Linked DNA regions of Homo sapiens. The protein of the gene in region 1 binds, or shares a complex with, the protein of each later gene. Each region holds a gene or a part of one and is shown in the gene's direction. Other genes may lie near its edges. The genes, in order: IZUMO1 and IZUMO1R.

Evidence for each region.
Region 2: the proteins of IZUMO1 (region 1) and IZUMO1R are in contact, whole or in part, in a crystal structure (PDB 5JKC), measured with the Homo sapiens proteins. Residues at the interface, in NP_872381.2 of Homo sapiens: Met75, Val77, Tyr134, Val141 (codon at 439), Leu146 (codon at 454), Trp148 (codon at 460), Lys150 (codon at 466), Asn151 (codon at 469), Lys153 (codon at 475), Glu155 (codon at 481), Val156 (codon at 484), His157 (codon at 487), Ala158 (codon at 490), Arg160 (codon at 496), Lys161 (codon at 499), Ser162 (codon at 502), Tyr163 (codon at 505), Asn239 (codon at 2,134), Ser240 (codon at 2,137), Ser241 (codon at 2,140), Pro242 (codon at 2,143), Ile245 (codon at 2,152); in NP_001186135.1 of Homo sapiens: Lys42 (codon at 5,645), Tyr44 (codon at 5,651), Glu45 (codon at 5,654), Ile48 (codon at 6,401), Leu58 (codon at 6,431), Trp62 (codon at 6,443), His65 (codon at 6,452), Leu66 (codon at 6,455), Asp67 (codon at 6,458), Gly80 (codon at 6,497), Leu81 (codon at 6,500), Leu82 (codon at 6,503), Met83 (codon at 6,506), Pro84 (codon at 6,509), Gly85 (codon at 6,512), Arg87 (codon at 6,518), Ile91 (codon at 6,530), Met145 (codon at 7,134), Ser146 (codon at 7,137), Tyr147 (codon at 7,140), Gln171 (codon at 7,335).

The regions. Positions count from the first base shown.
Region 1 is NC_000019.10:48,740,119-48,743,961, reverse strand, and holds the end of IZUMO1 (izumo sperm-egg fusion protein 1 isoform 1 precursor), read left to right. Parts: intron 1-436; coding exon 437-517; exon of another isoform or gene 518-554; intron 555-1,652; coding exon 1,653-1,753; intron 1,754-1,989; exon of another isoform or gene 1,990-2,019; coding exon 2,020-2,173; intron 2,174-2,483; coding exon 2,484-2,661; intron 2,662-2,933; coding exon 2,934-3,054; 3' UTR 3,055-3,110; downstream 3,111-3,843. Other genes in the region: RASIP1 (ras-interacting protein 1), read left to right, coding at 3,680-3,816. UniProt on the Homo sapiens protein: Essential sperm cell-surface protein required for fertilization by acting as a ligand for IZUMO1R/JUNO receptor on egg.
Region 2 is NC_000011.10:94,300,116-94,307,765, forward strand, and holds the start of IZUMO1R (sperm-egg fusion protein Juno precursor), read left to right. Parts: upstream 1-4,464; 5' UTR 4,465-4,764; intron 4,765-5,505; exon of another isoform or gene 5,506-5,515; 5' UTR 5,516-5,521; coding exon 5,522-5,659; intron 5,660-6,397; coding exon 6,398-6,607; intron 6,608-7,049; coding exon 7,050-7,185; intron 7,186-7,308; coding exon 7,309-7,577; 3' UTR 7,578-7,650. UniProt on the Homo sapiens protein: Receptor for IZUMO1 present at the cell surface of oocytes (oolemma), which is essential for species-specific gamete recognition and fertilization.

The DNA.
Region 1 (3,843 bases):
TGGAGTGCAGTGGCACGATCACGGCTCACTGCAACCTCCACCTCCCAGGTTCAAACTATTCTCCTGCCTCAGCCCCCTGAGTAGCTGGGATTACAGGTGCCCGCCATCACACCCAGCTAATTTTTGTATTTTTAGCAGAGACGGGGTTTCACCATGTTGGTCAGGCTAGTCTTGAACTCCTGACCTTGTGATCCGCCCGCCTCGGCCTCCCAAAGTGCTGGGATTACAGGAGTAAGCCACCGCATCCGGCCTCTACTTACAATCTTTACTGAGCCTTGTTGGAGCCCACTTACTACTTACCTGCGTCCTGGTCCTGTGCCTTCGTCTGACCATCTAGGAATGTCATAGATGATCTGGCCCCAGCCCTTAGCCCTGACCTCTCCTTTTAGCCATGCCCCTTAGTGGGCAAATACAAGCCTTGACCCTGCCCCTCCAGGTGTGATGTTGCAAACTCTGATCTGGTGCAAGAACTGCAAAAAGGAGGTTCACGCTTGTCGAAAGTCCTACGATTGCGGGGGTGAGAGAACTGGACCCAGCAGGAGGAATTGGTGCAGGTGGGGTGGGGCGAGAGGAGAGGCAGTCTAGAGAGAGCCTAGATGGGGGTGTGGGGGCAGTAGACAAGAAAAGGTAGGGTTTAGGCCAGGTGCAGTGGTTCACACCTATAGTCTCGCACTTCGAGAGGCTGAGACGGGAGGATTGGGAAGCCAGGAGTTTGAGACCAGCCTGGGCAACATAGCGAGACTCTATCTCTACAAAAAAATTTAAAAATTAGTCAGGTGTGGTGTTGCGTTCCTGTAGTCCCAGCTACTTGGAAGGCTGAGGCAGGAGGATTGCTTGGACCCAGGAGTTGGAGACTGCAGTAAGCTATGATCATACCACTGCACTCCAGCCCAGGCAAAAGAGTGAGACCTTGTCTAAAAAGAAAAAAAAGAGGCCGGGCGCGCTGGCTCACGCCTGTAGTCCCAGCACTTTGGGAGGCCGAGGCAGGTGGATCACAAGGTCAGGAGTTCAAGACCAGCCTGGCCAAGATGGTGAAACCATCGTTTTTGTACTAAAAATACAAAAAAATTAGCCAGACATGGTGGTGGGCACCTGTAATCCCAGCTACTCAGGAGGCTGAAGCAGAGAATTGCTTGAACTCAGGAGGCGAAGGTTGTAGTGAGATAAGATCGCGCCACTGCACTCCAGCCTGGGTGACAGAGTGAGACTTCATCTAAAAAAAAAAAAAAAAAAAAAGAGAGAGAGAAAGAAAAGAGAAAAGACGAGGTTACAACAAATGTAAAGGATTAGGGGAGGGTAAAGAACCGTGAAGGAGGCCCGGCGCAGTGCCTCATGCCTGTAATCGCAGCACTTTGGGATGCTGAGGCAGGCAGATCACCTGAGGTCAGGAGTTCCAGACCAGCCTGTCCAATATGGTGAAACCCCATCTCTACTAAAAATACAAAAATTAGCCAGGCGTGGTGGCAAGCGCCTGTAGTCCCAGATACTCAGGAGGCTGAGGCAAGAGAATCGCTTGAACCCAGGAAGCGGAGGTTGCAGTGAGCCGAGATCGCGCCAATGCATTCCAGCCTGGGCGACAGAGCGAGTCTCCATCTCAAAAACAAAAACAAAAACAGAATCATGAGTGTCCCATGGTCATCCCCCACCCCCAGAGCGGAATGTGGAAGTTCCTCAAATGGAAGACATGATCCTGGACTGTGAGTTAAACTGGCATCAGGCTTCGGAAGGCCTCACTGATTACAGCTTTTACAGGGTGAGGGCCTCAACTTCTGTAACCCTTGAACTCCCTAGACTACAATACTTGTGTTCTGGATCTATGGGCCTGCACCCACGATTCTCATGACCCAGGAGGGTGGTCTATTAGGTGTGGTCTCTACAGACCTCTGGGGACCCCGTGCCCTGACCAGTGACACCCTGGACACTCACCTCCCACACTGAGGCCCTGTGATCTTCTCACCCCTGTACTCCCCCAACCCCTGAATTCCTCAGGCCTCAGTGACCCCTTGAGCTTGGGTCTAGGTTTGGGGGAACAATACGGAGACCTTGGTGTCCAAGGGGAAAGAGGCCACCCTGACCAAGCCCATGGTGGGTCCAGAGGATGCAGGCAGCTACCGCTGCGAGCTGGGCTCTGTGAATTCCAGCCCAGCCACGATCATCAATTTTCACGTCACAGGTCAGTGCTGTGGGGCTGAGAGAAGTGTAGGATTCAGGGCCCAGGAAAGCTGGGGTCCGCGGCGGGGGCGTGGCCTTGGCGATGGGGGCGTGACTTCCTGTTGGGTGTGGTTTCGGGGCACGGGGTGTGGCTTCCTGCCGGGGGCGTGGCCTCTGGCCCCGAGGACAGGGGTTCCCTTGGGTGTGTTCAGGCTTGACACTGTTGAAGGCGTGATTATCTCTGGGATGGCCGGCTACTGGGACGGGCTTGTCTTTGCCAGGGCAGGAACTCCACGCCCTGCCAGGACTGCTCTTTACGCTTTCTCTAACAGTGTTGCCCAAAATGATCAAGGAGGAAAAACCTTCTCCAAATATCGTAACCCCGGGGGAGGCGACCACGGAGTCGTCCATAAGCCTCCAGCCTCTGCAGCCCGAGAAAATGCTGGCAAGCCGCCTTCTGGGGCTGCTGATCTGCGGCTCCCTAGCACTGATAACCGGCCTTACCTTTGCGTAAGCAACCCATTGAAGAAGACAGGCTTGGCTTGGAGTAAGGGGCGGGGCTTCCAGGAACCCAACACAGAAGCTGGTCTGGGGGCTACTGAGGCCTGAGAGCAGGACTTTCCTGGGGATGGAGTGCGGGGGGCTTGAATAGGAGGACTTCGAAGGGCGAGGCTTAGGTAATTGCTAGAATAAGGTCACAAAGGGGGAGGTTGGGAGGGGTGTCCCCCACACAATTAGTACCCAAACCGGTTCCATGATCTGCACCCCACTCCCACCCCTAGGATATTTCGTCGAAGGAAGGTGATCGATTTCATCAAATCCTCACTGTTTGGCCTTGGCAGTGGAGCGGCCGAGCAAACCCAGGTCCCAAAAGAAAAGGCCACAGATTCGAGGCAACAATAAAGATTTATCTTGTTGTCTAAGCATCTGACTCACTCCCCGGGACGGGACTGATTCTAGCCTTTGGTTCCCCGAGAGGAGAGGTCTGGGGATGGGCTCCGGCCTGAGGGAGGAAGGGCAGAAAACCGGGACCCTTGGGTCCTGGAGGGGACCAACTGACTGCGATGTAATTCCAGAATCAAGGAATGGGGCAGGGCCAACCCTACCCAGATCTCCTCCCCCAGGCCTGGTCTCCTCACAGGACGCCCCCTCCCCGCTCTTCCTGCCGGGTTTCCTCTTGCCTTTTCCTGTCCCCCACCCAGTGCTGGGAGCCGTGGCAGAGGCAAGAGCAGTGGAACTGACCCAGGCCAGTGGAGCCAGGGCCTCCGGGTGTGCCGGACCCGAAGCAGGGTAAGAGCCAGGGACCCAGCAGCCCAAACCCCTCCTCCCTGGGCCCCAAGACTCAGTCCCCCAGCCATCTTCCATCCCAGGACCCAGGAATCCAGGGTACCATCCCTCTCCTCCCCCTGGACTCGCAAGTCTGAGCCCCAGCCCCCTCCTCCCTCTGACTCGGAGTCCAGGTTCCCTCCACCCCATCCCCACAAGAATGCCTTAGGAGTTGGGGCCTTACCCGCCTTCCCTTAGGGCCATGCTGTCTGGTGAACGGAAGGAGGGCGGAAGCCCCCGCTTCGGGAAGCTTCATCTCCCCGTGGGCCTGTGGATCAATTCCCCCAGGAAGCAGCTGGCGAAGCTGGGGCGGCGCTGGCCCAGCGCAGCCTCTGTCAAGTGAGTGCCATCTCTGCAGGACTCCTG
Region 2 (7,650 bases), on another chromosome or scaffold:
AAGAGGGGATAGGAAGGAAGAGAGGAGAGGGGAGGGAGGGAGAGGAGAGAGAGAAGGGAAGAGATGGGAAGAAGGATGGGGAGAGGGAGAAAGGAGAGGTCACCTTAAGTTGGAGAGAAAAGGATAGGTGAGCACATGATAAAGGAGAAGAGAGAGAGGAAAGGAAGGAAGGCAGGAGAAAGGGAGAGATGGGATAGGTCAGGTTAAACTAGGGAGGTGTCTGAATTAGTATTCCAGGAAGAGATGCTGGGTGGATTGAAAATGTATCAAGAACAATTGCATATTGTAAAACTGCATACAAACCTCAGTTATGAGCTATTACACTCAGCAGCAGGAAAGAAGAGAGGCAGAAAAGAGAGATGGGATACGTCAGGTTAAACTAGAGAAGGGTCTGAGTTAAAACTATGTTTTTAAGAAATGCAGTTTGGGCCAGGCATGGTGGCTCACACCTGTAATCCCGGCACTTTGGGAAGCCGAGGCAGGTGGATCACTGGAGATCAGGAGTTTGAGACTAGCCTGGCCAACATGGTGAAACCCCATCTCTACTAAAAATACAAAAAGTTAGCTGGGCATGGTGGTGTGCACCTGTAATCCCAGCTACTCGGGAGGGAGGCTGAGGTGGGAGAATCGCTGGAACCCGGGAGGCAGAGGTTGCAGTGAGCCGAGATTGTGTTACTGCATTCCAGCCTAGGCGACAGAGTGAGAGTCTGTCTCAAAAAAAAAAAAGAAAGAAAGAAAAGAAAAGAAATGCAGTTTTATTCTACTCGGGTATTTCTCCTCATTGCAGACAACAAATTGCAGAGTATGCACTCTGGGCCAGGGACTGTGTTTGACCCTGTGACTATTACTGTCTTTCTGGAGCTGCTTACAGAAGAGGCAATGTCGAGCCTGTCTGCAGGCATTCATTTCCAAGGGCAGGAGGTATGTGCAATGACTGCAGCAGCATAAGCTCCAAGAGACATCTCACCAGCCCATGACGGCCATACAAGCTTCCCTGACAGGAAGCCTTCAGTTCTGAGAGCTGAGGGGTATGTATCCCTAGACACAGAGGCTGGGCTATGACAGAACAGCCCTGGAAGTGGGGCCCCTGCAAGCGGCAGGACAATGACAGGCCGTCAGGCCTCAGGAGTGCCCAGAGCATCAATGAGAGCAAGTACAACAGATTAAGATCTAAAAGTAAATAAAAACCACATTTAAAAGGGCTGGTGTGCCATGTTAAGGACCTGGGACTTACCTTAAGGTCTAGAAAGGTTTTAAACATGGGAGCATCATAATTGTCTTTACATTTTTAAAAGATCATTCTGAAAAACAAAGACTGCAAACAAATGTTGAACCCTAGTTAATGATATGCATGTTTGAATTACTTAGGAAGACATCAGTTTACTGATATCTGCAATTTACTTTGAAATACATAAAAAATAATAAGACTGATACCTGAATAGAGAGAAGGATGGTTGGCTAAATATATAATAAAGAAAATATAATAAAATGGTAATGGTGAAATCTAAGTGGTGGGCATATGAGAGAGAGTTCACTATAAAATTATCTCAACTTTATGTTTGAAAACTTTCATAATTAAAATACTGATAAAAGAAACGAAATAATTATATGAAAAATATACCTGCATTCTTATGTTTATTACAGCACTATTCACAATAGTAAAGATTTGGAATCAACCTAAGTGTTCATTAACAGATGAATGGATAAAGTAAATGTGGTAAAATATATACAATGATACACTATTCATCCATATAAAAGAATGAAATCGTATCTTTTGCAGTAACATGGATGGAACTGAAGCCACTATCTTAAGTAAAACAACTCAAACAAAAAGTCAAATACTGCATTTTCTCACTTAAAAGTGGAAGCTAAATAATGTGTACACATGGACATAGAGCATGGAATAATAGATGTTGGAGACTCAGAAGGGCGGGAGGGGGTGAGGTATAAGAAATTACATAATGAGTACAATGTACAAAGCACAGACTTCACCACTGTGCAATATATCCATGTAACCAAACTGCACTTATACCCTTAAATTTATACAAATTTAAAAAAATTCTGAGAAATTAGATCATTATGGCTGCTACTTGATTAAAGCTCTGGAAAAGGGTGGGAGAGCTAGTTAGGAGGTTGTTGCAGTAACTGAGGCAAGAGCCGATCATGGTCCAGACAGTAAGTAAGGGATGTGAATTCAAGAGATATTTAGAAAGTTAAATCAACAGCTTCGGCGATTGGATAGACATAGAGTGAAGAATAAATTAATATCCCTATTTACCTCCCTAGACAGAAACCAATTAAGAGTTTACATGAGGATGGTCAATCAGGTTTGGGGTGAGAAGAATTCATGAGACCCAGTAAGAACTCTGAATCACTGAAGTCCCCTTCGGCTGGCCTCTGACATCAGATTCTCACCAGGAGACTCCTGGCTCTAGCTCTTCACTTTCGTAGTCTGTTCTCAAATTCAGTGGGGGAGTGACCTCAGGATGGGAGAGGGGAAGGAAGTCATCACTGCCCAGCATCTCCAGTGGCCCCAAACCAGAGCCAAGGCTGGGTTGCTTCACCTACTGCCCTGCCCTCCTTGTCCTCCCTCAGAGCCCGCTGAAGGCTGCTGTACCTCTTCTTTTGGAAACGCAAGTGTTGGTTTTGTTGTGTGTGTGTGTGTTTTAGAATAAAAATTGTCTTGAATCAGCCACTTCAAATTGCTTCATCTACAGTCAGCTTTGACTTATCTGCTTTCAGTCAGAAAACAGATTGCTATGGAAGGCTCAGTCACAATAAGGCAAAAATGAGCTTTGCTCAAGGGTCTCAAGCTGCATCTCCCGAGAGCAGATGCTGGCCGGCCTGATGGTTCTCTGAAAGGCAGCCTCACTCACTGGGTAATTCCTTCCTCCCTCCCTCCCTCCCTCCCTCCACCTGCATATGCGCTGGCTGCAATTTTAGCTCATTTCCTACAGCTTTGTCCTGGAGACTGTTATCAAGCAAGCCGCCCTTCGTCCTTCTTCACACCCTATGAAGGACAGTTGTCAGAGGACCTATTTCCATTTCAATAATTACTCTTGTGATTCATGTCTGGATTCTCGGCTCTGGCACCTCCACAGCCATTTTAAACTGAACCTTAAACCCCAAATCTCTTACCTTATCAATGCTTGGAGCTTCCTGAATATTCATGAGGAACTGAACAGAACATGACAGCCTGCTTCTCCCTCTGTCAGGCTATAGAGATGCTATTACCATTTGGTATCTGACCCTAAGGAGGAGACTCCAGGCTCTGCTTAACGTGGGGACATGGGAGACTGGGTTAATAACTGTCACTGTTCTAGAATAAAGCCAACACACGCCTCCCAATACATGCACAACCTCATTATGGCATTTAACGTTAAAAAAAAAAAAAAAGCAGACCTCACTTGAGACCCAGGCACCCAGGCAGTATCTACTCTTTTAGTCCCGGAGGTTTCTCCCTCACCTGGTCCTTAAGCATTAGATAGGGAGTCGAGAATACCTGAAATTATATCCCAGCTCTGCTACTCACCGCTGAGCCTCAGTTCCCCACAGCTAAAACAAGGAGGGTGTTCATATTGGAGGTCTTTTTGAGACCTCAGATCCTGTAGACAGTACCAGGCCAGTGCCTGGCTCCTTGTTTGTGCTCAGCATTCAGTGGCTGTGATTACCCAGGTGTGGAGAATGTCATTTTCCAACATTAGTATATGCTTTACACATCAGTTGTAGCTGAACACCACAGAATGTATTTTATTCCATTAAAAAAACGCTTTTAGTGTTTTGTTTTCATTTCCTTTGTATCAATAAAACTTCAGTGATTTCAGCTACTTCTCTTTCAGAGAGAGAAAGAGAGGACATATTATAAAAACAAAGAAATATGCTCCTTTTCCAGCATTTTTATCATCTTTGGGACTCTCCCAAGAATCCTATCCAAGTTTCCAATCTCTCCTTAGCTGAAAAGGATAGTCTTGCAAATATGATCACTGCTGAGAACACTTGTAGAATATTTCACAGGACAACGATTCCTGTATGCTAAGGGAGGCTGCTTGGCGGGTTATGGAGGGACTTTCTTTGTTTTGTTTGCTTTGGCTTTGTTTGTATGTTTAAATTCTTGGGTCCCCAAGGCCACACTTCATCTCTGCATCCTGTGTCCTCGGTCTGTGCTCCAGCAGGGACCATAGTTCCTGTGGGCTGTGCGAGGACACTGTCAGAAAAGCCACCAGGTGACTGAGCTGATGCTTGGCTAACAGTGAAGGGGCAGGTAGAGCTACGGAACAGAACATAGGAGGGGCGTGTGGAGAGAGGATAAAAGAATAAAATTTAAAACCATTAAGACTTCCTCTATCCCAGGCACAATGCCAAGGTTTTTGTTCATGAACTTTCTCTTTATTTTTCCAATCCCATAATAAAAACTTCCTTTACAGAGAGAGAAACTGACAGAGAATTTGAGTCATTTTCTCCAGGGCAGCCAGCTAGTAAGTAGCAGAGCTGACAGCCGAACCCGGTAACTTATTGTAGAGCCCCGGATCTTGCCTACGATGGGGTCTGTTTCTCTGAGGAAGCAAACTTCCTCGGAACCCACAGGCCTGCAGAGCTGGGTGAGACAGATGCTGTTTAATGAGAGCCACGTGGAGTTCTCCTCCTGCACCTGGACCTAGTAGAAATCAGACTGGGTAATAAATGGGCGGGACATGGAACTCCCCTCAGCCTCATAGTCTCAGGGGGAGGAGGGAGCAGGAGCACCTGAAGGCTCCTGCCTTGAAAGTGAGTATGAAGAGAGTGCTGGAAGGGGCAGCATCTTTCCTCCTTTTACCTAACAGATCTGATTCTTTAAAAATATTCAAGGCCATGGCTGAGCTTGAAACTGGTTGTCTGGAGAGAGAACAGCCTTAGATTTGGACTTGAGGTTGGGCTCTGAAGAGGGGGGCTGGGCTCTTCTTCCCCAGGATGTTTGAGGCTCTTAGACCAGGGTAGGCTAGAAGTTTCCAGTTTCACCATGATGGGTCCAGGTCAGGCTCCTGCCAGACTTGGGGGACTGGGGGAGCCATGGGCTCCTGGGCTATGAAGGTGAGGGGCCCTGTGTCCTAAGAGGTTGGGTGCTTGAGGCCTGGGGCCCCTCTGCCTTTTGCTTTGTTTTGTCTCTCTTTCCACTACCTCTCATTACCACTACTACCCAGAACAGAGTTGGAAATAGGAAGGGCCCTCCTCCTCATTCCTGTGATGGGGATCAGGCTTTGGATGTAGAAGGCTCCTCCTATCTGACTCATGCCTCGGCATGCCCCTGGCTCTGCAGGGCCAGCAAGGCCTCCAGCACTGTGTCAGGCCTCCAAGGATTATTCTACCTGCCCTGACATTCTGTGATGCTGCCTCCAAAAGAAGGTCCTAGGAGCAGCCAGAGTGTTGCAATTATTTGAGGGAGATTGAAGCCCATCCCCCTTTCCCAGTGCCTGCTATGATGAAGGGGGTGGAGTGGGGTGTCATTTCCATCAAGTGTGCAGCATGGGTCTCTCTGTAGCAGGCCATGGCATGCTGGTGGCCGCTCCTGCTAGAGCTGTGGACAGTCATGCCCACCTGGGCTGGGGACGAGCTGCTCAACATCTGCATGAATGCCAAACACCACAAGAGAGTGCCCAGCCCAGAAGACAAGCTCTATGAGGAGGTACAGAGGCCAGACCTGGGTATGGGATGGGGAAGATCAGGGAAGGGACACAAATGCCAAGATGGTCTCCGAACCTCATCAACCCTGATCATTTGGTTCCTGGGGTTAGGAGTTAAGCAAAGGCAACTAGATGGAAAGAGACTATGCCTTTTTGAGACCATAAGAGCCAAGCGATTCAAAGTTCCCATTTCTGAGCTGCTCTAGCCACTGGGAAAGCAGGGACCGCTGGTGATCCCAGAGATCCATTGTTGACTCGGCACAGATGAAAACAAGCCTTCCTGCCAACAGGTCCTGGGGCAACATATGACTTATGTGACCCCTCCCCAAGCTCCTAAAGGCAATTTCCAGGGATATGGGAGGAAGAACACAGCTGGCATTTGGCCTATGAGACCCTCCCACCCAATGCAACCCCAGATTCCCCTGGGTCTCTCTGGGGCTCTTCTACCTGCTTTGCCCTAAAAGGCTTCTGCTGCCTCTCAGGAGCTGAGAGCCCAGAAGTTGTGTTTCTAGAGGACTGTAGCAGCCTGTGGCAGGGGGTCATTGTGCAGGTGCCTCTGCCCTTTGGGTAAATATTGAGAGATTATCAGGGTTCCTCTTATGTAGGGGCTTACTAGCTAAAGGCATCCCACTTGCTCAGGCCTCCTAAGGGACATTTTCATTTCACCACCTTTCTTCCCTAGACACTTGCCGATCCTTGCCCCTTTTGCCTGGGCCTTTTGTTTCTTCCTCTGCCTTCAGTGCATCCCCTGGAAGGACAATGCCTGCTGCACCCTCACGACAAGCTGGGAAGCCCATCTGGATGTATCCCCACTCTACAACTTCAGCCTGTTTCACTGTGGACTGCTGATGCCTGGCTGTCGGAAGCACTTCATCCAGGCTATCTGCTTCTATGAGTGCTCCCCAAACCTGGGGCCCTGGATCCAGCCAGTGGGAAGCCTGGGGTGGGAGGTAGGAAGCAGATCTGTGCCATGCCCTGTTATTATATTAACAGCCAGAGCTTTCACCCGATCTTATGCTGATGCCGCCAGGATGCTAGTAGGAACAGGAGGTGTTATTTCCCTATGGACAAGAGCAGAGCCAGAGGCCCCTGCTGGAGAATCACATGGGGGAGACTGTTCTGACAACAGTGGGATGAGGGGCTATCACCACAGGAGGCTTGGTGGAGTTGACAGACCTGAGCTTCAGTCTCATGTTCTGTCCCTACCAGCTGTATAGCCCAGGACAAACTATTAAATCTCTTAGCCTCATTGGTATTATTTGTAAAATAACACTTAGAGGCTTTATGGAAGATGATGTACATATGGTACCTGGTACAAATACCACTGTAGCTATTAGTAGTCTTCACATCTCTGCTATTAATGTTCTAATCTCTGGCTATGACTGCACCCAGGTGGCCCCGAGTGGGCAGGGAGAGCGAGTTGTGAATGTGCCGCTGTGCCAGGAGGACTGTGAGGAGTGGTGGGAAGACTGTCGCATGTCTTACACATGCAAATCCAACTGGCGTGGTGGCTGGGACTGGAGTCAGGGTGAGTGGTGCTGACAAGGCCTTGGTCGGGAAGAGGCCCCTTGGTGGTCCCCACAAGGGTGCAGGTGCAAAGGCTAGCAATGAGGGAGTAGGAGGTAAGCTGTCCCTCCTCCATCCCCTGCAGGGAAGAACCGCTGCCCCAAAGGGGCCCAGTGCCTCCCTTTCTCCCATTACTTCCCCACCCCAGCTGACCTGTGTGAGAAGACTTGGAGCAATTCCTTCAAAGCCAGCCCTGAGCGACGGAACAGTGGGCGGTGTCTCCAGAAGTGGTTTGAGCCTGCTCAGGGCAACCCCAATGTGGCCGTGGCCCGCCTCTTCGCCAGCTCTGCCCCATCCTGGGAACTGTCCTACACCATCATGGTCTGCTCCCTGTTCCTGCCGTTCCTTTCCTGAGAGCCCTTCTTCTCCCACTCACATTCCTGCATGTCCACCAACTGTGGGTCAGGCCAGGCCATGGCCTACCTCC